Homo sapiens: one gene and its partners. The protein of the gene in region 1 purifies or fractionates together with the protein of each later gene. This does not show direct contact. Each region holds a gene or a part of one and is shown in the gene's direction. Other genes may lie near its edges.

Region 1 (3,500 bases):
ATTTTTTCATTGTAGCTGACTATTTAATAAAGTGCATAATACTTTTTTCAAGTAAAATACCTCTCCTTGAGTTAAATTTTGATCTTTATATAATGAGTTTTCTTAAAGGACAACACAATCATGCCATTACCCAAAAAACTGTCAGTGTGCCACAAAAGATTCCTGTGTCTGCCAACAACATAAGCCCTTGGATATTGTCGTAACATCACCTGACCTATGTCATTTGCCCGTTTAATAAGGACATTATGAAGATTAAAGTTATAATATTTATAAAATCTATCAAGCACTTCTGCATGGCTACTCTTCTTATACTTCACCATAATACTCTGAGGCAAAAAGATACTAATTTCTCTTTGAATATCTTTTCCACATATTATGTGGAATTTCAATAAATAAAGGGAAGATGAGAGTTCCCACATTTATGTATTGCCTAACTCCATACTATAATTATTTGCCTATAACTAAGAGACCATTTTTATCTAGTGTTTTGCCTTCTGAGTAGAAAAACTGCTGAATTTCAGAAAAGTCAAATAAGAATGAAGTTTCATCCTGCAGAAATTTTGTACTTTGTACATAGGTATCTTTTGATGTTTTGATTTCAAATATATGGAATGTGTAGTTTCAAAGACACGGCTTTTAGAGGTCAGACCTGAAGACCAGTCAGCACTTAACTCACTTTCCCCAGATTGTTTCCTCAGGCCTCACGTGATCATTTTATAAGAAAAGAATCCGAATTTATCAACAATGTCTAGTACTGTTCTTTTAGTGAAAAAAAAAAAGGTAGTATAATAAATTCTCACTTAACAATGTTGATAGGTTCATGGAAACTGTGACTTTTAAGCGAAGTGACATATAACAAAACCATTTTTACCATAGGCTAATATAAACAAGAGTTAAGTTCCTCTGGCATATTTCTAGTCACAAAAATATCACCCAGCTTCTAAATCAAAACCCAAAACACTTATAATATTAAGCATTGAAATAAATGTCAGCCATATGCACATTTTTTTAAATTAATAAAAACAAGATAATTGCCCAATTTTTGGCCAATTACTGAGTAACAGCAGTTGTGGTGGTGGGTTAAATCAGGGAATAAATATTTGCAAAGATAAAACTGTAAGGAGCCCCTCCTCCCACCATACAGCTCAAAACAATCACAAATATGGTGGGCTCATTGAGCACTTTCCTACGACATCATTTATTGTTGTACATTTGTATGATTATTGGATGCTTTATTACAATCATTTGTATCCATTCATTTTCTAAGGCACTTCTTCCAGTTCAGGGTCATCAAGGGTGGCTGGAGGCTATCCTGGAAGCTCGGGGTGCAAGGCGGCAACCCACCCTGGACAGGACACCGTCCCATCACAGCACACTCACCCACACACACCCACACTTGCTCAGACTGGGACCCTGTAAACATGAAAATTCACCTGCTGTGCACAGCTCTGGGATGTGGGAGGAAACCCACGCAGGCCTAGAGAGAATGTACAAACTCCCTACAGACCATGGCCCCAGCTCAGAATCAATTTTTTCTTTTTCCTCATCAAAGTTGAGCAAAATGATGTTATTTGAGGAACTGTTTTACTGTTAAATTGTCATTGCTATTACTTAATTTCTGATCAGAGATTATCAATGTGTTTATTATTGCCTAAATAAAAATTTCATTCCTATTGTAGTAAAATATACATAACATAAAATTTACCATTTTAACCATTTTTAAGTGTACAGTTCAGAGGCATGAACATTCACAGTGTTAGGCAACCATCACCACCAGGCATCTCCAGAACTTTTTCATCTTCCCAAACTGAAACTTCCTATCCATTAAACAATAACTCCCCATTTACCCTTCCCCATGGCTCCTGGAAACCACCATCCTGCTTTCTGCCCTTTTGAATTTGAAAAAGTTTATTCTTAAGGGCAGTAGTTTGAAATCATTTTTTGTAGTCTCTTTAGTGAAGCTGTTCTCTGTGGTAAGAGAGAACTGTGTGATGCTTTAAGGTCATTATTTATAGATAAAAGAAATGATGTACAGTCACTGGTGCCACCTGCTCACTATGTTCCATGACATCTATTACAGGCAGAGAATTTTTTGTGGGCCTTTCCAAAAGGACAAATCAACGAGGTGCTGAAATCTTGGCTGATACTTTTAAGGTAGGTAAAAGGTAGTTTATGCCTGGCACAAAGCAATTACTTAATAAATAATCATAGAACCATTGAATCAATGTCATGAGTAATGGTGTTTACGCTTCACTGGCTTTGTACAATAATTCGTAATGTTTGTACATTTACTAGAAGTTTTAGAAGCTATAAAATTCAAATTCCTCAATAATTCAGCTTCACTGGGCTACCACAAGAACAACTAAGTTAGCATGGGCATCTTCTGTCTTCTCCCAGTGTATAATTATACAACCACCTGGCAGATGTTCCTGGAACAATCAACAACTTAAAAAAAAATCTGGAAGGCCGGGCGTGATGGCTCACACCTATAATCCCAGCACTTTGGGAGGCCAAGGCAGGAGGATTGCATGAGCCCAGGAGTTCCAAATGAGCCTGGGCAACATGGTGAGACCCTGTTTCTAAAAAAAAAAAAAAAAAACTTGGAAACCCAATTGACTCTGTTATGAAATACAGATTTTTTTTAGATTGGAATCAGGGGTCACCTGTGCTTGAGTGCCTTCTGTGTGCTGTAAACTGTGCTAGGTGTTGCACGTACATCCTCTTAAGGTCCCTTTACTCTATTGATTATTAATAGATTGGCTCTCTACACTGCATAGGAAGGGATATAACTCTCAAGATGCTCCGTTCCCCATGAGGATGTGAGTCTCCAGCTGAGCCACTGTTTACACAGGATATTCAAATACACCCTCCCAGAGTAGCCCACTCCATAGATCAAACAGCCAGCAAAGATGTTGCAGCAGTCACACATCTGGTGACTCTACTGTCTTCTTAGAAGCAGTCTTCGTTTAACTAGCAATATCCAAATCTGTGGGTCCCAGTTTTTCTTCCAAATATTCAAGGTCCCTGTCAGCCTTCAAGAAGTAGGTGTATTTCAGGGAGGTTTTTAATCAGTTTTAGAATTATTCTGCAATACTAAACTGCTTGTTTTTCTATTGTCCACGTAGGACTATGCAGTCTCCACAGTGCCAGTGGCAGATGGGTTGCATTTGAAGAGTTTCTGCAGCATGGCTGGGCCTAACCTGATCGCAATTGGGTCTAGTGAATCTGCACAGAAGGCCCTTAAGGTAAATACAAAACTGTGCTCCTTCTAAATGTAGTGGGGGTGCCTGCCACAGGGTTTTTCACATTCTCTCTGCTGGGGGAGTAACAAGCAGGGTTGGCAGGGAGAGAACAGGCAGGTATTTGAGCTTCTGTGATGTGCACTGTTGTGACCTCACATTCATTAGAAGCCAGGAACACCTAAGTGTAGGAAGAACTCTTCACTGGTGAACTGTTTTTAGTTACACACCAGATTTCCTAAAAAAAAGGCCATGATTCAA
Region 2 (3,500 bases), about 61 Mb from region 1:
GCCCCAGAGGCTGCTTTGTTTTGGTTTGTTGTTGTTGTTGTTTTGAGACAGGGTCTCACTCTGTTGCCCAGGCTGAAGTGCAGTGATATGATCACTGTTCACTGCAGCCTCGACCGCCTGGGCTCAACCAATCCTCCCATCTCAGCCTCCCAAGTAGCTGGGACTACAGGCACATGCCACCACACCCAGCTAATTAAAAAAAATTTTTTTATAGAGATGGGATCTCACTATGTTGCCCAGGCTGGTCTCGCTTGAACTCCTGGACTCAAGCAATCCTCCTGCCTTGGCCTCTCAAAGTGCTAATGTTACAGGTATGAGCCACTGCACCCAGCCTGCCCCAGAGGCTTGATTAGATTCAGGGTCAACTTCTTTGGTAAGAATACTTCATGGTGCCATAGGAAACACACCATATCTGGTCATCTCATTTTTTGATCCTAAAATTCATTGGTGGGTTTGGGTGAGCCATTTTGCTTTTTTAACAAGATAGTACAAACACTTCTTGCTGTTAGTAGTTGTCAGCATAACAGTTTCACCATCTTTATCAGTGTTTTGTGGTGTTTTCAATTTTTCCTAATCAACAGGAGGAAGACATCTTATTGTTTACTTTTAAATTCCCTTTATAGTTGTGCTATTTTACATTTTTCTGTGTGTTCACTTGTTTTATCTGTCTCTCATCAATTTCTTTTGACCCATACCTATTTGATTTTTTTGATGACCTTTGGAATGAATTTGGACAAAATCCTTAGGTAATGTAGATTTTAAGCTTTTCTCACTCAGTACTTTGTCCATTCTTTGTTGCTTTTTACCCTTCATTATGCCATCTTTTATGTATTGAAGTAATTTTGATATTAGATAGTCTAATCTGGTGATCCTTTTCCTTGTCAAGCCTGGACTTCTAGAATAATGGGAAAGAAATAGCACCAGAATTTGGAATCTTTTGAAGTTGAAGATGACTGCAGGATTCAGCTGCTTTTCTCTTTTATTTTGCCAAAAAGAAAAAAAAAGGCCTAGGGAAGTCATGACTTACCCATCTTTACACAATTAGTTGGGGCCAGAGTTGAAACCAGACACTAACTCTCCAAAATCTTTTTTCCCTCCTCATTCTATCACTATCTCTAATGAGTGACTTAGTTAATTTGGAATGAGAATGATGGATTTTGTATTTTGGTTAAAAAAAAAATCAAAGCATTTTCTTACCATAAATTATGTATTTTGTGGAGGCTTGCTTCTTATTAGAATACTATTACAGCTATTATATCTAGTGGAAAAGTACTATTTCTTTCTTTTTTTTGAGACAGAGTATTGCTCTGTCACCAGGCTGGAGTGCAGTGGTGCGATCTTGGCTCACTGTAACCTCCGCCTCCCGGGTTCAAGTGGTTCTCCTTCCTCAGCCTCCCAAGTAGCTGGAACTACAGGTGCATGCCACCATGCCCAGCTAATTTTTATATTTTTAGCAGAGACGGAGTTTCACCATGTTGGCCAGGAGGGTCTCAATCTCTTGACCTCATGATCTGCCCACCTTGGCCTCCCAAAATGCTGGGATTAGAGGCGTGAGCCACCACACCTGGTTGAAAAATACCTTTCTTTCTTTCTTTCTTTCTTTTTTTTTTTTTTTAAGATGGAGTCTTGCTCTGTCGCCCAGGCTGGAGTGCTGTGGTGAGATCTCTGCTGACTGCAGCCTCTGCTTCCGGGATTCAAGCGATTCTCCTGCCTCAGCCTCCTGAGTAGCTGGGATTACAGGCACATGCCACCACGCCCAATTAACTTTTGTATTTTTAGTAGAGATGGGGTTTCACCATGTTGGTCAGGCTGGTCTCAAACTTCTGACCTCGTGATCCTCCTGCCTTGGCCTCCCAAAGTGCTGGGATTACAGCCGTGAGCCACCGTGCCCGGCTGAAAAATACCATTTCTTATTCAGTTTTATATACTTTAAATTTTAGAACCACTTTGATCTCTTTTCTTTTTCTTTTTCTCTTTTTCTTTTTCTTTTCTGACAGGGTTTTACTCTGTCACCTAGGCTGGAGTGCAGTGGTACATTCTCAGCTCACTGCAACCTCCGCCTCCCGGGTTCAAGTGATCCTCCTTCCTCAGCCTCCCAAGTAGCTGGAACTACAGGTGCGCACCACCATGCCCAGCTAATTTTTATATTTTTAGCAGAGATGGGGTTTCACCATGCTGGCCAAGCTGGTCTCAAACTCCTGACCTCAGGTGATCCACCCGCCTCGGCCTCCCAAAGGGCTGGGATTACAGACATGAGCCACCATGCCCGGACAATTTATTTATTTTCTTTTTGAGACAGGGTCTCTCTGTCGCCCAGGCTGGAGTGCAGTGGTGCGATCATGGCTCACTCCAGCCTCAACTTCCCAGGCTCAAGTGATCCTTCCACCTCAGCCTCCCTGGTAGCTGGTACTATAGACACGCACCACCATGCCTGGCTAATTTTTTATGTTTTGTGGAGACAGGATCTTACCATGTTGCCCAGGCTGGGTCTCAAACTCCTGGGCTAAGCAGTGTCCCACCTCAGCCTCCTGTAGTGCTACGACTACAGACGCAAGCCACCGTGCCTGGCCAACTTTGAGAATTTAAAGTATTATTGTTGTTTAAGAGTAAAAAATGATCTGATTTTGACCAATATTTTGCCCAACAGGAAGCCAGCAGACCTGCAGAACTTGGCTCCCGGGACCCACCCACCATTTATAACTTTCAACAGTGAAGTCAAAACGGATGTAAATAAGATTGAGGAATTTCTTGAAGAAGTCTTATGCCCTCCCAAGTGAGTATCAAGGAAAATACGTATGAAAATATTGTCACTTCTTTGAAGCTTGTGTTATTTGTCAGTAGAGATCTTTCTCGCAGCATTAATTTGGAATGACTAGGACTCTCTTCTATGTTTCTTATAATTAATGCTACACAGATATAAGAATTGGCTTCCAGCTAGGCCAATCAGCCATACTAAGAAAGGTGGGGATTTGTCTAAGCTGTAGAATATGTGGTAGAAACAGATTTGGGATGTGTCTGATAGGTCAGGAAAGACTGGTTATTTGTGGACTGTAGGTCTCAAACTGAGAGAGAAGTTTAAAGAGGAGAAGGGGTGGGGAAAGACACATTCCAACTGAACCCAGTAAGAATGTCTTAGCAGGAGTGTGGCACAGGACTGCAATGAGATTTGATTTCAGTTCATTTTAAAGGTAACTTTCTAAAGCTATAATCCAAGGACATTGACTTTTCCGACTGTGTCCCTAGGATTCAGAGTTTTTATTTACTTACTTCTTTGAGGTGTTCCAGATCTCTAGGTCCTGGATGTACTGTAATGATAGTTACCTAAATTGCAGATATGCAGCTTTGCATCATACTGTAATATTGGCATAGATTCAAAGCATTATTTGTTTCTTTTAGGCTTTTCCAGTTTCATTATCCTGAAAATTGACATGTTTTGTTTCTACTGACCAAAACCTTTCTTACTGGTTAACTTGACTGTTGCCCTCCATGTCCAGATATAT
Region 3 (3,500 bases), on another chromosome or scaffold:
AGTCAGGTAATTATACCAGAACCAGTAAAAGCCTCTGTCTAAAGGCATCTTTGGTGAAAGGAGAGTGAGGGCTGCCTGTCTTTTTTTTGTAGAGTCTGTGTTCACGTGACGTGTCTTCCCCAGCCAGTGCTTTTACCTGTTATCGGAGAGACTACATTCTCATATCAGAACTTAAATACATAGCAGTAGGGGATCTAGACTAGTTCTGTTCTACTGGTAATGTAGTGATTTATGATTCTTTCATCTGTAAATAACAGAAAACCCAACTACTTTGAACAGTTATAGAATCTTTTAGCTCACAGAGCAGGCATTCTATAGGTGGGAAAGATTTCAAGGTTAGATGATTCACCAGCTCCCCACATTTTCTCTTTCTACGTTCTGTTGTTCTCTGCGGGTACCTCTCCTAGAACTAGTCCCCTCAAGGTTGCAGGAGAGCTGCCAGGAGCAGGTGGGGCCACATGCTCCCACAATCCCATCTGGTAGGAGAGGAGATGCTGACTTCTTTTTGCTTTTTTTTTTTGAGACTCTGTCAGTCCGGCTGGAGTGTACTGGCATGATCTCTGCTCACTGCAACCTCTGCCTCCCGGGTTCAAGCAATTCTCCTTCCTCAGCCTCCCAAGTAGCTGGGATTATAGGCGCCTGCCACCACGCTCAGCTTTTTTTTTTTTTTTTTTAGTATTTTTATTAACTTTTAAAAATTATTTGTTTTTTGAGACGGAGTCTTGCTCTGTCGCCCAGGCTAGAGTGCAGTGCTGCAATCTCGGCTCACTTGCAACCTCCGCCTCCCAGGTTCAAGTGATTCTCCTGCCTCAGCCTCTCCAGTAGCTGAGATTACAGGCACATGCCACCACGCCCAGCTCATTTTTGTATTTTTAGTAGAGACAGGGTTTCACTATATTGTCCAGGCTGGTCTTGAACTTCTGACCTCACTTGATCCGCCTGCCTCAGCCTCCCAAAGTGCTGGGGTGACAGGCGTGAACCACCGTGCCCGGCCCTTTTTGCTTTCTTTTTAGGAGCAGAAGAAAAACTTTCCTAGAATCTTCCAGCAAACTTCCTGTTCAGATTTGATATACTGTGCCTGCTCCTAAACCAATCACTGGCAAGAGAAATAGGATCACCCCCAAACCATTTAGCCATGCCTCCTCTGGAGCCGAGGTCAGTTTCCCAGACTTGAGCGTGGGTACTCAGGGATGGCATGGAAGTGAGGAGCCCCCACGCTGACTGCCACACAGAACAAGAAGGAAACTTTGCAGGGTTTGTTTTGTTGACTGCAGAGGCAGCCTCATCAGTGTTTCATTTTGTATTTAATGCCTGCAAATTCAGCTACCTGCTCTGACAAAACAAAAGCAAAAACGGGGAAAATGCTGGCGAATGGCAAGGGCACTTGTGCCGACTCCCTTACTTGGTGAACGTATGCCTGCAAGTGGGCCTGAGAAGGGAGTCCTGGAAATTCTCCTTCTTCACTGGTCGGCCTCCTGTCCCCGATGCCCCCATGCTGAGTCTGTAGAATGTTCAGTGCTCCTTGTTTATCATCCGGTGCTCAGCAAAAGAAAGATCCGTCTGTTCCAGTGTGGGAGGCTAGACTTGGCTGTGTGGGACTCGTGGAGAGATGGTGTTTCTCTGCCTCACTGGTGATTTAAAGGGTGTTGATGGTGTTTTTTTGTTGATAGGTGATTGATCCTTTGCTGACTTTAAAACTTAACGCTTGCAGCTAGCTCCACCATCCATTTTTTCTCTCCAGCCTTAGTGATATTTCAGTGCTTAAAATAATAGAGAGCCCCATGGTGCTAAGAAGCTTTTGTTCTTTGGAATGGAAATCCCCTTGGGCATTTCTGGTTGACAATGTGGTCAGACCTTCTGTCCGGCTGGCATTCATCTTTCCTTTGAATTACCCACTTCTGTGCAGCTTCACCCACGCGTTAACTTCCTGTCCTGCGTCCCTTCAGGCTCCAAGTCAACTGGGATTTGTTGATTTTGAAGTAAATGGAAAGAAAAAAATGGAGCCTGCCAGGCGGAGGCACTTGTGAGAAACAGCGTCTTAATCCCAATATTGCTGTTCTAGCAAACAGGACTAAGGCAGTAAAGCCAAAGAAAAATGTACTGAATTTATCGTAGTCAGATGGAGACGTGGAACAGCTCTTTAGAAAGTCACTTTACAATGTGAAAAGTTTCCAGTAACAGTAGGTGTTTCAATATGACTTTTATTCTTTTTACAAAATAATCAAGTTTTTTCCTTAGACAAGCAGAGAAGCTGAAAAAAAACACACACACCCATGTACCCAGAGAGAACCACTGCTGACATTTTAGAGTATATCTTTCCAATCTTTTGTCAAAAATACGTATATATAATTAAGTGTATACATTTCTGTATATCCTTTTTTAGGAGTTCCATCGTATTATTACATTGTAGGAAGAGAAACAATTCTCTATTGTTGGATATTTATGTCGTTCCTAGTGTTTTATTGTTCTAAGCAACACTGGTGAATGTCTTTGTCGTAAAAGCCCTTCATACATCCACAATTACCTTTGGAGTGGCTGAAAATGGACTTGTTCTTTCAAAAGCAATGAGCACTTTTTAAAGCTTTTGGTACATTCCATCAAACTATTGCCCAGAAATGTACTGATTTACACTTGTATTACATGATTGTGATTTTCCCCTCTACACTAACACAGTTAACACTGCCAACTTTTAACATTATTTGCACATTAGTTAACAAAGGATTTTATGTGAATTCTAATTTCTTTGTTGTTTGGGGGCGTCGGGTTGAAATTTTTTTTTTTTTTTTGAGACAGAGTCTCGCTCTGTCGCCCAGGCTAGAGTGCAGTGGCGCGCTCTGGGCTCACTGCAAGCTCCGCCTCCCGGGTTCACGCCATTCTCCTGCCTCAGCCTCCTGAGTAGCTGGGACCACAGGCGCCCGCCAGCACGCCCGGCTAATTTTTTGTATTTTTAGTAGAGACGGGGTTTCACCGTGTTAGCCAGGATGGTCTCTATCTCCTGACCTCATGATCCTGCCACCTCAGCCTCCCAAAGTGCTGGGATTACAGGCGTGAGCCACCGCGCCCGGCCTGAATATTTTTTCGTATGTTATTTGACCATTCTAATTCCTTGTTTTGTGGATTATTGCTTTGTGCCTTTTGCCTATTTTTCTAGCATGTTCATTCTTTTCCTATTGATATTTACAGGTGATTTACATATTAAGGACTTTTTGTCCAATATATTGCAGTTGTTCCCCCTACTGTGTTGTATACTCTAGTTTTGATTGTAATTCCTTTTCTTGGTTGTTGTCTAGGAGTTTTCCATTTTGTGTAATTTATGTAGCAGAAGTTTTTTCTTCATAGTTTTTCTATCTTTGGTGTCAGGTTTAAAGAAAAATCTTCCTCTACTCCAAAATTGTATAAATAATCATCTGTATCTAGTATTTTCATGGTTTCATTCTCTAAACTTATTTTTTTAACCCATCAGGAATGTATTTTGTCATTTATTTCGAAGATGTAAGTTT
Region 4 (2,783 bases), on another chromosome or scaffold:
TTTTTTTTTTTGCTTTAACAATCAACATTCTTCTGCATGATACTTGTTCACATGTTTTAAAGTTTCTTTAGGATGGTAGGGTGATTTTTGCCTTGCCAGGAAACCTTTGGCAGTGTTTCGAGACATTTTAGATTATCAAGACGGGGAGAGGGGTGTTACTGCCATCTGGTGGTCAGAGACAAGAGATGCTGCTAAACATCCTGCAATGCAGACTCTCACTGACCCCTCCCCACCCCTACCCCCCCTACACACACAAAATAGTGCCAAGGTTGAAAAACCCTGCCTGCCCTGAAGCATATAGAAGTGGAATTGATAAAACTTGAAATGTTTTCATCTTAATAAGTGGATTTCTGTAAATCATGGAAAAAATATTTTCTCCATAGGTTTGGAATGTTTGGAATTAAAGTTGCTCTGGCAATGCTGCCATTCCAGCAATTACAAGCAATTTATATATCTCAAGCCAGATCAGGTAGCAGCATTATCCAGAGTTAGCCAGTTCATTCACTTTAACTTCATGAACTAAAATACTTTGGCACTTTGTCTGCTTAAAAGATTAATTTTAGAGTGAGTCTGTTTCAAAACAGTGGCACTTGTGCAGATGGGGATAGTTGGAATATTAGGCTGAATGTACTTAATAAGAGCAAAATTAGAACATGAAAAAGTTTTTCTTGACACAGATGGTTGTTAAACATTGAAGACTTAAAGGTTTAAGAAGTTTTTCTCTAGTATATTTTAAATTAAAATTGTAATTGAAGACATAGGAATGAATTTAGACTCACTTGAAGATGTGTTACATGTCACCGTGGAATACTGTGCTGCCATAAATAGGATGAAAGCATGTCCTTTGCAGCAACATAGATGCCATGATCCTAGGCAAATTAACACAGGAACAGAAAAATAAAATTTTAAGTGGGAGCTAAACATTGAGCACACATGGATGTAAACTGGGAACAGCTGACAGCATGGACTACTGGAGGGTGGTATGGGTTGAAAAGCTACATGTTGGGTATTGTGCTTACTCCCTGGGTGACAGGACCTGTACCCAAACTTGAGCATCATGCAGTTATTCCCATCTAACAAACCTGCACATGTACCCCTTGTATCTAGGGGATATATGTGCAGGTTTAAAATAAAAGTTGGGGGAAAAAAGACCCATGGTTCCTGTTTGAGAATCCGTTGAAAGCTATGGCCCCAGAAATGATGTCCGTACTTGTGTAAATACAATTTTGCATATGGTTTGAGGTGGTTTATGCATGCTTCTGAAGCCCATCCAGGGACTCACCACTCTTTACTTATATCCAGGTTAAAAATTTTGCTAAAAGTTGGTTAAAACACTTAAAGTGCTAAAAATAGATATACATGAAATGATCAATGAATTGTATCTTCACAACTATATTTATATCTCCTTAACCAAATGCTTCTGCATTTACTGATGAGGAAAAATAGGTGACTCAGAATTAGAATTCAAGTCCTCTAATGTTAAATATTATTTAAACTTTACATCTATAACCTTCATTCTTTATCTTTTTAGGTGTATGCAACAGCGTTATTGCAACAGGCTAACGAAAACAGACAAAATTCAACTGGAAAAGCATGTTTTGGCACCTTCCTCCCAGAAGAAAAACTTAATGACTTTCGTGATGAACAAATTGGACAGTTGCAGGAGCTGATGCAAGAAGCCACAAAACCCAATAGGCAATTTAGTATTTCTGAGTCTATGAAACCAAAATTTTAGTCTATACAACAAAGCTTAATAAGACATGCAAAAATTTAGAACCCCTACTTTAACTGTCATTGGTTTTTGAAATATATTTAAGCTTTGAAAACACCTGTTATTAATGAAATACTCTTTTATTTTGGATATTATGATTGCAGTATATGGATCAAGATCACTAGTGACAATTGAAAAAAACTATTGGAATAATAGCACTTGTATGAAATTCAGTTTTGGAACTAAACAGCAAATTTCTAGAATTTTGCTGAAAATGTTTTAAAATGCTATTCTCATCCAGCCATATTAGTCTTCTGGCTTTTCTTTAGCTTCATCAAATAAGCATGTTGTGATAATGATAGATGTACAATTCCAACAAGGTTATTATTTTTTAAATACATTGTCATTCTGAACATTTTATCACTTCTAGTTTAATAATACATACATGATTTTTCTTCTGAATGTCTCTTCTCCCTGCATCACTGTTCATTCACAATGAAAGGTTAGGAAGAAGCTTTAAAATTCACTATTTTACTATCAATCATTTGTATAATAAACTATACAAAGTATAATACGTTTCCTCCAGTGTTTGTTTGTTAATAACAACCCCTGAAATAATGTGTAGCTACATTGAGACTCTCATTTATCAACTAATAGTTGAGGACATTACAAATCAACTTAAGTATAAGAAACTTTCCTAAGATCTCAAATTTAAAAAACGGTAACCCCATTTACAACATAAAATGTGGATTTTAAAAAATATTATGCTAAATGACTTGTATCTTTAGTTATTGAAACCTGATTCCCAGTGTGATACTATTAGGTGGTAGAGCCCTCATGAATGGGATTAGTGCCCGTATAAAAAAAAAGCTCCAGGGAGATCTCTTGCCCCTTCTACCATATGAGGATACAGTGAGAAGATGTTAAAGCAGAAAGTGGCCCCTCATGAGACACTGAATCTGCTGGTGCCCTGGTCTTGTACTTTGCAGTCTCCAAAACGTGAGAAACAGATTTCTATTTATAAGCCACCCAGTTTAGGGTAATTTGTTATAGCAGCCCAAAGAGACTAAGA
Region 5 (4,232 bases), on another chromosome or scaffold:
CATAAAATAGGTAAGAGCAGATCGTTTTCTTCATCAGAAATATCTGGAAAAAAAAAAGCCACCAAGCACTGTATGTGTCAATTTCTCACCTTTTTTTAAAAAAAAAAAGAGTGGGCTGCTACAGTGGATATGTTCTACATCTCTTTGGGGCAGTGATTACATACAATTGTCATAACTCGATGGAACTGTCTACAGGATCTGTGTATTTTCTTTTAAGTAATTTATAACTCAACTTTTTTTATGGGAAGCTGTAGTTAACACTGGATAGTTAATACTTGGCTGATAAGAAACCGACTTGTTACAGAGAAAATGAGTCCCTTCCATCTTGGGCACAAAACGGCTCCACAAGACCAGCCTAGCTCTCTGGGCAGGCAGGTAACACTGGCAGGCAGAGGCATGCTCCTTGAATCTCACTGAGGGGGACAAGTGTTAGTGCGAGGCAGGTAGGAGCAAGGCCGCACACGCAGACTCTGTCATCTGGGCAGCTGCCCAATCCCCGTTTTTCATTTGTAACAAAAATAGTGTCCACCTCTTAATAATGTTCTGAGGATTAAGGGCGTTAAGTCGGATGTTTGTTGAAAGCACTTAGGCATAGTAGGAAGTACTAAGTAAATATGTCTTACCACTATTTATTATAAAAGATGAACAGGCTGGCCCGGCGTGGTAGCTCACGCCTGTAATCCCAGCACTTTGGGAGGCCGAGGCGGGCGGATCACGAGGTCAGGAGATCAAGACCTTCCTGGCTAACACAATGAAACCCGGTCTCTACTAAAAATACAAAAAATTAGCCGGGCGTGGTGGCGGACGCCTATAGTCCCAGCTACTCGGGAGGCCGAGGCAGGAGGATGGCGTGAACCCGGGAGGCGGGGCTTGCAGTGAGCCGAGATCGCGCCACTGCACTCCAGCCTGGGCGACAGACCGAGACTTCGTCTCAAAAAAAAAAAAAAAAAAAATGAACAGGCTACTACTACTACTACTACACACACACACACACACACACACACACACACAGAGCCACTGCCTAAAAATCTGGCAATCCTTCCTGACATTTATTACTGAATAACGAACGGTTACCAAACCTGTCTCCCAAATCACAAGACTCTTCCAGATTAAAATGTCTCTCGCCCACTTGGATCCACTCGCCTGTCTAGGACACAAACCCGTGAGGCACCAGCCCCCGTGACAGAGGCAGATTCCAGCTTCGCCTCACGCCACCTCACGCCTCGCGCCAGCCTTCCCACCACTGCCCGCGCAGCCCGCGCGGCGTCACGTGACCTCTAGTTCCGCACCGCCCCCCCCACCCCCCGGCCTAGCTGCCGGATCCCCGCCCCGGCTCGTCCGCGGTGTCACATGACACCTGGACCAGCCGCTGGCCAATCCCCTCCCTCCCGGGTTGCGAGGCATCACGTGGACGCTACTCGCTATCCCCGGCCTGTTGGCTTCTTCCGCGCTGGAGTATCCAGATAGGCGACACGCCGGCGGGCGGCTGAGGCGGGAATGGCTGCTGTACTGCAGCGCGTCGAGCGGCTGTCCAATCGAGTCGTGCGTGTGTTGGGCTGTAACCCGGGTCCCATGACCCTCCAAGGCACCAACACCTACCTAGTGGGGACCGGCCCCAGGTAAACGTCCCTCTCCAACCTCCCCAACGTTCGCAGCCGGCCCCGGAGCCCGGGCTTTGACTGATCGCGGCTGCGCGGGCAGTGGAGAGCGCCGCGTCCTGTCCCTAGCTGGGCAGCCCCGCGCCTAGCAGCCCCGTCGGGACTGCACGCAGACACTCGGATCTCGAAGCTAGCTAAAATACGACCACCCCAGGTGATAGCTCTCTAATTTAGGGAGAAATGGAAAAAAAAAAAAAAAAAAAAAAAAAAACTTCTGTTTTGAAACCCGATTTACTGTTCTTGATGTTTGAATGCCAGGGTGTGCGTGTTTAAACTGTTGAGAAAATTCGGATGTCAAGAGTCCAAGAAAGCGTTTACTTTGCTCACTTGACTTTCACTGGTGTTTTGCCCAGAGTGTAACTTCCCTTCTCAAAAGCGATTAATTATGTTGAGGCGATTTCCTCAACTCAGCAGCAGAGGGCAGGATTCTCCTGGCTTCCAAATTGGTTCTCTGCAGCCTGTGGGCTCATAAGAGGAGCTGACATAAGTAATTTGGGGAAGTTTTTTGTTACAATTGTGTGTGACCTTGTTTGAGTTTAATTTGCAGACACAGTAACACACCTGTATTTCTAAGAAGATACTTTTGCTCTTGTTTAGCTGCATTCTGTTTTAGTGGAATTATGCAGGAATGGGAGATTTGGTTTACTGCATAGTAAGTCTTAGGCATTTAGCAACTTTTGTAGTCTTTACTGGATGAACCCAGATAATGTAGTTTCTCTTGAGCATAGAATTTAATTGTGCAGTCAAGACATAAATTATTTTTAAAATATAATTGATTACTAAAAACGATTTAGTAAGTACAGTTAATTGAGTTTTCCTTGGAAGTGTCTACTGTTTGGCGTTTTTCCAGTAAATAAGAATTTTAGAAGCAGCAGACCTGCAAAGTGGGCAGGTAAAAGATTAAGTTCAGAGTAAATAAGGCAGGGTCAGGTAGTTACCAAAGGTTTAGGCTGCCACCAGAATCTAGGAGGATAGAGAATTAAGCAGGAAAAATGCCAGATCTCTAGGGTACAGTCTGTCTTGGCTGGAAGTCCCTCAACCAAGTAAATCCATAGGCGGTCTCTCTACAGTGTGTCATCTTGAACTAGTCAATACCTCAGACAAAAGATGCATATTATCAGAATTACCCTGGAAAGTCTCTTAGAAGAACACCATGTTGGAGATCAGTGTATTGTCTCAGTAAGTTCAGCACAACCTGCCTTTTTTCCAGCGTTGAAACAGATGGCTGATTCTGTTTGAAAACCAGGTGAAGAAATTGGCTTGTGTTGAGGGGCTATATTGTATGAAAAATACATACTGTATCTTTAAACACTATAATCACACTCAACATAGCAAAGTGCTAGTGCTAAGAGAGACTTAAAGACTAACTGAGGGAAAAGCAGATTTATAGTCTCTCGTCTTAAATTACTTAACACTGTTGCTCACATAAATTAATGGAGTGGAATGGCCAGTGGAATTACTTGCACTATGTAAATTATTTCTCCATATAGTTGAACTAGAGAGTCCGTATAGTTGAGCTAGAAATAAGTGTAGATAATGCTACTGTATAAAGTAAAAGGTGTAAAGTAAAAGGTGGCTAGAAGTTAATATTAATTGGCCCCTTGTCAGATGTTCTGAGATTGGTATCCACCTGTTCCGCTTCACAAAACAGTTCTAAGATCACAAGCGGCTTTTGTATCACTAACCCCAATGGTATTTTTCTGTTCTCATCTTCCTTGAACTTCAGTGCTTTGACACCATTGACGACTCCCTCCTTAATTTGCCAACACCACATTCTTCAGGTTTCCTATTACCTCTTGAGCTGCTCTTTCTCTTTCACCTTGATAGAGTCATCTTCTTTATCAAATCTTTAATTATTTTAGTTATTCAGTATATAATCCTCATCTCTCATGTTCTTCTACTGTATTCTCTACCTAGGTGATCTCATCTACTTATTTGGCTTTGCCTTTATTATCTGTTTATTATTAACTACCAAATATATAGCTCAAGTTCAAATTCCAAACTTGATCTTCAGACTCAAGTAGCCAACTTTTAAATCTATTTGCATGACTCACTGCTGCCTGGAACTCAGTGTTTTCCATACTGAACTCATAACCTTTCCAGAAAACTGCCAGGTCCTCCTTCAGTTGTTCATATCTTGATAAACAAAGCCATCAAAGGAAATGCCTAAATACCCTTCCTGACATTTATTTGCTTCCTACTGCATATCCAAGCCATTATGAAGATCTGTTCATGTCCCCTGCTGTCACTCAGTCCAAGCCAGCACAACTCTTGCTTAGGCTACTGTAATAGCCTCCTAATTGGCTTCTGTACGACTACCTCTGTCTCTCTTCAATCCAATCTTCCCTTTGTAGCCTGAGTGGTATTTTAGGAATTAAAACTGGAAGGCCTTGTGTATTCTGGCCTCCATCAGTCTTATCAGGCTCCTCTCAAACCTCTCCCACTCCAGCCATGCTGGCCTTCTAGTGTCTCAGATGAGGTTTGTGATTCCCTGTCTCAGGGCCTTCACGCATGCTTTCCTCTTTCTTCCACTCATTCCTCCCTTCTTTACCCAGCTAATCTCATTCATCCTTT
Region 6 (4,180 bases), on another chromosome or scaffold:
CCATGCCTGGCTTAATTCCAGAATGTTTTAATTATTCCAGAAATAAATCTTACACTAATTAACTGTCACTCTCTATTCCTACCCTTCCTGAGCCCCTGGAAATCACTAAGCTAGTTTCTGTCTCTGTGGATTTTCTTCTATTCTGGATCTTTCGTATTAATGGAATCATATATGAGTGCCCCATTGTATCCGTCTTTTTTCACATAATATTCTCAAGGTTCATCCATATTGTAGCATGTCAGTACTTTATTCCTTTTTGTGACTAAATAATATTCCATTGCATATATATGCCACATCTATTGATGAATGGATTTGTTTGGATTGTCTCCACTTTTTGGCTACTATGAATAATGCTGCTATGAACATTAGAGTACACATTTTTGTGTTGACATATATTCAGTTCTCCTGGGTATGTACCTATGAGTGGAATTGCTCAGTCATGTGGTAATTTTGTTTAACTTTTTGAGGAACTGCCAAACTCTTTTCCAACGTGGCTGCACTATTTTACATTCATCCTCACCAACAATTATTATGATAGCCATCCTAGTGAGTGTGAAATGACGTCTCACCACGGGTCTGATTTCCATTTCCCTAAGGATATTCAACATTTCTTAATGTGCATATTAGCCATTTATATATCTTCTTTGGACACATATCTATTCAAATCTTTTGCTCATTTTAATTTTGTGTTTTCTACTCCCTCCATTTTGCAGATGAAGCCCATTTTTAGACAGGAATACTGTATTTGTCTTTTTATTGCTGAGTTATAAGAGTTCTTAGGCCAGGCGCGGTGGCTGACGCCTGTAATCCCAACATTGGGAGGCTGAGGCGGGCGGATCACTTGGGGTCAGAAGTTTGAGGCTAGCCTGGCCGACATGGTGAAACCCCGTCTCAACTAAAAATACAAAAAACAGCCGAGCGTGGTGTGGCGCGTGCCTGTAATCCCAGCTACTCCGGAGGCTGAGGCAGAAGAATCGCTTGAACCTGGGAAGTGGAGGTTGCAGTGAGCCGAGATCACGCCATTGCACTCCAGCCTGGGCGACAGAGTGAGACTCCATCTCAAAAAAAAAAAAAAAAAGTTCTTTATATATTCCGGATACTGGTCTTTTAGGCACACAGGTTATCCTGTATATTAAATAATAGTGGCTGTGCCAGCGGCTTGTTAAACTGTAAGATGTGACGCAAAATAAATGAAGGCGATGACAGTGAAAGGGGAGAGATACGAGGTTCCACAGCTGGAGGGTGAACGCCCCCTACACCTCCTGGGCTTAATCGTAACCGGAGCGGGGTACCCTCAATTTCCCCAGCCCACAGGCCCCGCCCCCCCCCCCGCCCTTTGACCTGCGCCGCTTCCGGTTGAAGACGTGGCTTGGGGCCGCCATCTTGGCAAGAGGCGAAGCGGCAGCGGTTCCTGTCAAGGGGGCAGCAGGTCCAGAGCTGCTGGTGCTCCCGTTCCCCAGACCCTACCCCTATCCCCAGTGGAGCCGGAGTGCGGGCGCGCCCCACCACCGCCCTCACCATGGTAAGATCCGAGCCAGGACCCGAACTCCTGGGGTCCGAGCCTCACCGTCTCTCCTTGTCGGCGGGCCTGGGGCAGGGGCCGGAGGAGCCCCGCCCTGAGGGTCTAGGGCAGAGTGCTTTTGCTCCGGGCTCGGGGAGCAGTGTGGCCTCCTGTGCCCGGTCTCCTGGAGATCCGATGGAGCTGACTCCAGTCCATCTGTCGTCGTGCCCGCTTCCGCACCACCCCCCAACCAGCTGGACTCCCTCGTTTGCTGGGACCTGCCCCTGAGACGGCCCGGCGTTTTTGCTCTGCGAGAACTTCGTGGTGGTGGTGCGGGTCCCAGGCTGCGGACCTCGGAACTGATGCTGTCCCGCCGGTTCCCTGGCGCTTAGGCTCAGCAGGCTGGGCCTGTCTCCGGAGGTTCTGGTCCTTCTGTTAATCAGAGCTTGTCTCCCACCCCCGGTGTTTGCTAGGCCGTTGATAACTCGAAATGCAAATCCACTGGTGTCCAGAAATTTTTCTTTTTGTTCAGAAGGGGGAAATGGAGACACAGAGCGGAAAGGAGTAACTTCTAACACTAATGTATAGGACCCAAGTGTCTCTGAAACCTTCCACTACTTCCGCAGAACTCACTTGTGTCCATTTGTTAGTGTGACTCGGGGTACATACACTGTGTAGACCACTGGGAAAATGTGAGCAGGTTCCAGAGAACACAGGGTTTGCCTTCAAGGAACTTATTGTCCAGGTGAAGAAAAATGTGTATGTGGCATGTCGTAGTCAGATGTCTCACAGGAGGTGGAGTAAGAGGGATGGGTTAGCCTCCGAGACCAGTTACTTGCCTTCCCATGCGTTATCTTTGTATACTCATCTGTTACAAGGATGAGAAAGGTTAATGTGGTTGAGGATGGAGGAAATCAGAACTGCTGACATCACTCAATCTTCCTTTATCGCTGTGATTTGTGGATATTCATGAAGTAGTAGACATTCTTTGGTTTCAAAAAAGCTAGTAATTTATTTTTCAGTGCACCTTATGTCCTTTAGTCTTTTGAAGGATGTTCTGTTCTGTTCTTTTTTATTCTTTTGTCAATAGATAACTTGATTTAAAACATCGTCCAGTGTACCTGAGAGATGGCAGAATGTAATTTGGTGGCAATCCTAATAAGTTCTATTGACAACCCTTTAGATAAGAACTTGGATAATGGGGGGAATTCATGCTTGGACTTTAGGCCACTGAACAGCTTTTCTCAGCCTCAGGTATATAAATTGCATCAAACAGGTTTGCCTCCTAAAATTTTTGTGTTGGACACAAAATTTCCAGAAACTTGTATTTTCAGTTTCTCCAGGAGGTTCTGTATTTGGTTAGTGATTTTGAAACTCAGTTCCCGTTTACACCCTGGAATTAATAATGCATTTTAGAGCATATTTTTATTTTAATAGTAAAGTTAAGGTCTTGTATTATATAAACCAGATAAAGGTAATCTTTCTAAAAATATTCTTTGTTAAAAGGTTCTTGGAACTTAGTATTTTTAATTCATTGATAACTGAGGGATGGTAAAGCCCTACGTGATATATATAAAATATAACTTTTGCATGCTATTTTGACATGTGTACGTATACATAGAGTTGTGTCACATATTTCTGAATTATTTGGGACTTAACATGATCCAGATACCCACAGATTTGTGTACTCTGGAGAACAATTTATCTCAGTACATTCTGCTCTGTAGAGTGTTAAGACATTGGTATGATTTCTGTGTAATGTTTTTGGGTCCTGCTCCTTTACAAACAGATCCCTGGACAGTAGAAATGTCCAGATAGGGTGAAATTTTTATCTAAAAGTTGTATCAAAATTTCCAGCGTTTATTTTAGCTCAACATTTCATTATGAAATTTTCCAACATCTGGAAAAGTTGAAAGAACTTTGTAGTGAATACCCATATAACCACCAACTAGATTCTATAACTAACATTTCACTATATTTTATCATGCATCTAATCATCCATCCATCCCTCTCTCCATTAAAAAAAAATATACATTTCAAAGTAAGTTGCAGATATCAGTACGTAAACATTGATTTTTTAAAAAATAAATTCCCTTTGGCTTTAGTTATTGAAGTGCAGAATGTCCTAGACTGCAAAGTTCCAATAGATAAATAAGTGAACAAATGCAGAAACAAATGCTTTCTCATGACTTCATCATAAAATAAAGTACAAAGAAAGGCATCTTTTGATTTTTTTTTTTTAAAGAGACAGGGTCTCACTATGTTGCCCAGGCTGGAGGGCAGTAGCTATTCACAGGCGCTATCATAGTGCACTGCGGCCTAGAACTCCTAGCCTCAAGCAATCCTCCCGCCTCCATATCCCAAGTAGCTGGGACTGTAGGCATGCGGGCCTTGATTTGATCTTTTTTTTGTATTCTGCAAATTAATGAGAACATGTTCTGACTTTTTTTCTTGTTTGTTTGGTTTTCGAGACGGATTCTCGCTCTGTCTCCAGGCTGGAGTGCAGTGGCACAATCTCAGCTCACTGCAACTTCTGCCTCCCGGGTTCAAGCTATCCTCCTGCCTCAGCCTCCTGAGTAGCTGGGACTGCAGGCGCCTGCCACCACGCCCAACTACTTTTTTGTATTTTTAGTAGATACGGGGTTTCACCATGTTAGCCAGGATAGTCTCGATCTCCTC
Region 7 (3,500 bases), on another chromosome or scaffold:
AGGGGTTAAAAATCATACCTACCTCAGAGTTACATGAGGATTAAATGAACTAATGCTTATAAAATGCTTCATAGAGTGCCTGGCATCTGTAAAAATTGTTAGGTTAAGAAGAGACCTAGTGGGTTGGTTACTGGTGAATATGTGGTAAGCAGATTTTTTGCAGTGGTCAGGAATAATTATCTGTGTGGAAGTACAGTCTTTGAAATGAAACAGTAATTTCCTATGGTGATCACAAGTTAAAACCACTTTTTAACAATTTCAGTCCAGTATCTATAATGTTTGAGCTTTTAGAAACTCTTGTCTTAACTTCATTCTTTTTGTTAATTTACAAAAGAGCATATATATGGGAAAACAGTTGGGATCTAGTTTCAACAGCACAGGGATAATGTAGTCTTTTTTGTTATGTTGCCAGAGGTAACTGATTATAAATGTAAAATTGTGTGCATATGTTCTAACTTCTTCTCTCTATAACCACAGTAAACTTGTTGAAAAAAGCCTATTAGTGAGTAGAATTTTTGTTGACAATGTTTAAACCTCTGCATATGGCATTAAAATGTAACCTTTATAAATCTTTGTGTGAAATATACCTGCACACATATTTTCCAGCAACATCGTGTTTTAACTTGTTAGTTGCCAACATTAAGAAATCAGGTTTCATATAAATATCCTTATTTTAGGCTAGAAAAATTAGATGATGGTGTAGCACTTGGTCCACTGGGTCCACTGGGTCTATTGTGTCTATTGCTTCTGGTGCTGTCACGCATCAGCTGCTTTGCTTAACCTGTCCCTGACGCACGCATTTTATGCTCAGTTCTAGCTTTGTTCTAGGTTCCATTGTAAGTAATCCTGTAAGGCCTGAAGCTTTGATAATCAATAACCATGTAAAAAAAAAATAAGGAAGCTAATGGTTTTGCAGCACAGACTACACACCAGGTGCTATAATTGGTACTTTACATATGTTAATAACCCTGCTTCTTTTTTGCAGCACCATCTTGGAGTAGCTGGTGTGCTTATTTTACGGATGAGAAACTGAGGCTTAAAAATTGAATAAATGGCTCAAGGGCACCCAGCTTGTGTATGGCTAAAACCCTTGTTTTTTCTGTGAGTTCCAGTTATTGCTTTTAATTGTTCGATGTTATTACTCAGTAGAAGTTGAAGTTTTTTGCAATTTGTTGGCATCTGCAGTATCTAACTTTTATAAAAGACAGGATTGCTTTCCTGACTGGGTTCGCCCATGTAGTTTTTTGTGTAAAGGTATGATTATGAAGCAGACCTGAGTACTACTTTTAGTTGTGTGATTCTTGAATCATGCTGGAACAGGGAGTACCCTTCATCTTGTTTTTCAGACTAGAGACATTTAAAGTAATGTTTCTAGCCTGATTTTTCAATATTAGAAAAATATACCAGAGGATAAAACACATCAGAATAAAATGTGGCTCTCCCCCGACCTTTAGTTTCTGCCTTTCCTGTGGTTTTGCACTTTTTGCTTTCATTTAAAGTGCAAATGGCATTCTCCAGGGTGCTTTATATGATTTAGAAAGTCAGGTAGTACTGCAGGGATTATGAAAAAAAGCAGCAGACCAGTGCCCTAGCTCCCTTCTTGACAGATTTCTGCTCCCCTGAGGCAACTACTTGTTGGAGGCCAAAAGAATGAGGGTCATGATCAACTCAGTATACCACTGGAGGTTATATGAGTAAGCAGCAAACTGTTTTTCATAAATGCAGAATGTTGGCAAACTGACAGACTGCGTATGCCACCCAGAAGGAATGCTGAAGGCAGTCATGCCCAAAGCACAGTGTTTCTTGTGATTAGGTACATCTGAAGCCTGTTAGTAACAATATGAACCTGTGATCAATTAAGCAGCTGACCAATCCTTACCTCCTTCTCCCTGCTCTTGTTACCCAATAAATATGAAGGGCTGTGGAAGCTCAGGGGCTGCCTTTGCTCACTAGAAGCAGGGAGCTCTTTTCTTCTTCCCCTGGCCCTTCCTTTAAAACAGTTCCTTTTGTTTTTTTGTTATTTCCATGTTTGTCCCTTCCTTCAGTCTCGTAATGACGGTCTCAAGTAGTAACAGTAGTAACTGTTGTAGTGAAGGTCTCAAGTAGTAACTGTGGCAATGTGCCACAAGTGGCGCCCGAACAGGGACTATCAGTGACAAACAGAGACCTGAAGAGACCTGAAGGGACCTGAGGAGGCCTACAGGGACACATAGAGATAAGTAGGGATAAATAGAGATAGAGACAGATAGGGAAAGATAGGGACTTGCACCAACTTGGAGGAACTAACAGGGACCGTAGAGACAGACAGGGACAGACAGGGATAGATAAAGACTAGCAAATACTAGCAGAGACTAGCAAAGACTAGCAGAGACCAGCAGAAGCTAGCAGAAACTTGCAGGGACAGACAGGGACAGATAGAGACAGGGTCCTATAGGGACTTGAATGAGGAAGTTCTGCTGGAACAGAAAAAACTAAAACCAACCAGACAAATGAGAAACCCCGTTACAAGTCTGCTTGACAACATAAGGAGATGAACAAACTGTGTGGGTGCCCTCAAGGTGTGTGCGACCATGGAATGGAAGACTGGAGAGATCCATGGATTCTAGCTACAGGCCTTGTTCCCCTAATACGAGCCATGAGCCAGTTGAATCTGAATGCGAAGATGGAATGAGGACCGACCGGAGTCACACTGACATCAACCCTCATGACATGGGGATAGATCAAGAAAACCACACAGGAAGCTGAGACACTGTTAGTGTCAGGGTCAGGCAAAGACCCCTGACTCCATGTTTGTGGCCATGCTGGCCATGGTTTCCTGTGCCTCCCGTTGTAAGATCAGCTGGACCACCAACTGGCAATTAAGGGCTGCACAGCCTGTAGTTGCCTTTCTCAATTAATTAAAAAACAAAAAGGGAGAAACGTTGGAGGTCGAAAGAATGAGGGTTATGATCAACTCAGTATACCACTGGAGGCTATATGAGTAAGCAACAAAATGTTTCTCATAAATGTAGAATGTTGGCAAACTGACAAACTGTGTATGCCACCCAGAAGGAATGCTGAAGGCAGTCACGCCCCAAGTGCAGTGTTTCTTGTGATTAGGTACATCTGAAGCCTGTTAGTAACAATATGAACCTGCGATCAGTTAAGCAGCTGACCAGTTGCTACCTCCTCCTCCCTGTTCTTGTTACCCAATAAATACGAAGGGCTGTGGAGCTCAGGGGGGCTGCCTTTGCTGACTAGAAGCAGGGAGCTTTTCTTCCCCTGGCCTTTCCTTTAAAACAGTTTCTTTTTTTTTTTTTTTTTTTTTTTTTATCATTTCCATGTTCGTCCCTTCGTCCCGTCTCCTAATGAGGGTCTCAAGTAGTAACAGTAGTAACTGTTGTAGTGATGGTCTCAAGTAGTAACCGTGACAGTCTGCCACAACTACTTTCACTAGTTTTGGTTTTATTTTCTGGTGTTTTGTCTCTAAATAACATGATTTTCTTGTTTCTTGATTTTTT

What was found.
Region 2: the proteins of DDAH1 (region 1) and CLIC4 fractionate together in Homo sapiens (co-fractionation; one large-scale study listed by BioGRID). This does not show direct contact.
Region 3: the proteins of DDAH1 (region 1) and GLOD4 fractionate together in Homo sapiens (co-fractionation; one large-scale study listed by BioGRID). This does not show direct contact.
Region 4: the proteins of DDAH1 (region 1) and SDHAF3 purify together in Homo sapiens (co-immunoprecipitation; one large-scale study listed by IntAct). This does not show direct contact.
Region 5: the proteins of DDAH1 (region 1) and LACTB2 fractionate together in Homo sapiens (co-fractionation; one large-scale study listed by BioGRID). This does not show direct contact.
Region 6: the proteins of DDAH1 (region 1) and ARCN1 fractionate together in Homo sapiens (co-fractionation; one large-scale study listed by BioGRID). This does not show direct contact.
Region 7: the proteins of DDAH1 (region 1) and EPB41L2 purify together in Homo sapiens (affinity purification with mass spectrometry; one large-scale study listed by BioGRID and IntAct). This does not show direct contact.

What each region holds. Positions count from the first base shown.
Region 1 is NC_000001.11:85,350,160-85,353,659, reverse strand, and holds part of DDAH1 (N(G),N(G)-dimethylarginine dimethylaminohydrolase 1), read left to right. Parts: intron 1-2,080; coding exon 2,081-2,154; intron 2,155-3,125; coding exon 3,126-3,245; intron 3,246-3,500. UniProt on the Homo sapiens protein: Hydrolyzes N(G),N(G)-dimethyl-L-arginine (ADMA) and N(G)-monomethyl-L-arginine (MMA) which act as inhibitors of NOS. Has therefore a role in the regulation of nitric oxide generation.
Region 2 is NC_000001.11:24,811,447-24,814,946, forward strand, and holds part of CLIC4 (chloride intracellular channel protein 4), read left to right. Parts: intron 1-2,647; coding exon 2,648-2,773; intron 2,774-3,500. UniProt on the Homo sapiens protein: In the soluble state, catalyzes glutaredoxin-like thiol disulfide exchange reactions with reduced glutathione as electron donor. Can insert into membranes and form voltage-dependent multi-ion conductive channels.
Region 3 is NC_000017.11:772,281-775,780, reverse strand, and holds part of GLOD4 (glyoxalase domain-containing protein 4), read left to right. Parts: coding exon 1-6; intron 7-3,500.
Region 4 is NC_000007.14:97,179,481-97,182,263, forward strand, and holds the end of SDHAF3 (succinate dehydrogenase assembly factor 3, mitochondrial precursor), read left to right. Parts: intron 1-779; exon of another isoform or gene 780-869; intron 870-1,531; coding exon 1,532-1,735; 3' UTR 1,736-2,283; downstream 2,284-2,783. UniProt on the Homo sapiens protein: Plays an essential role in the assembly of succinate dehydrogenase (SDH), an enzyme complex (also referred to as respiratory complex II) that is a component of both the tricarboxylic acid (TCA) cycle and the mitochondrial electron transport chain, and which couples the oxidation of succinate to fumarate with the reduction of ubiquinone (coenzyme Q) to ubiquinol.
Region 5 is NC_000008.11:70,666,386-70,670,617, reverse strand, and holds the start of LACTB2 (endoribonuclease LACTB2), read left to right. Parts: upstream 1-1,432; 5' UTR 1,433-1,497; coding exon 1,498-1,619; intron 1,620-4,232.
Region 6 is NC_000011.10:118,571,029-118,575,208, forward strand, and holds the start of ARCN1 (coatomer subunit delta), read left to right. Parts: upstream 1-1,380; 5' UTR 1,381-1,519; coding exon 1,520-1,522; intron 1,523-1,567; exon of another isoform or gene 1,568-4,180. UniProt on the Homo sapiens protein: Component of the coatomer, a cytosolic protein complex that binds to dilysine motifs and reversibly associates with Golgi non-clathrin-coated vesicles, which further mediate biosynthetic protein transport from the ER, via the Golgi up to the trans Golgi network.
Region 7 is NC_000006.12:131,053,246-131,056,745, reverse strand, and holds part of EPB41L2 (band 4.1-like protein 2), read left to right. Parts: intron 1-3,500. UniProt on the Homo sapiens protein: Required for dynein-dynactin complex and NUMA1 recruitment at the mitotic cell cortex during anaphase.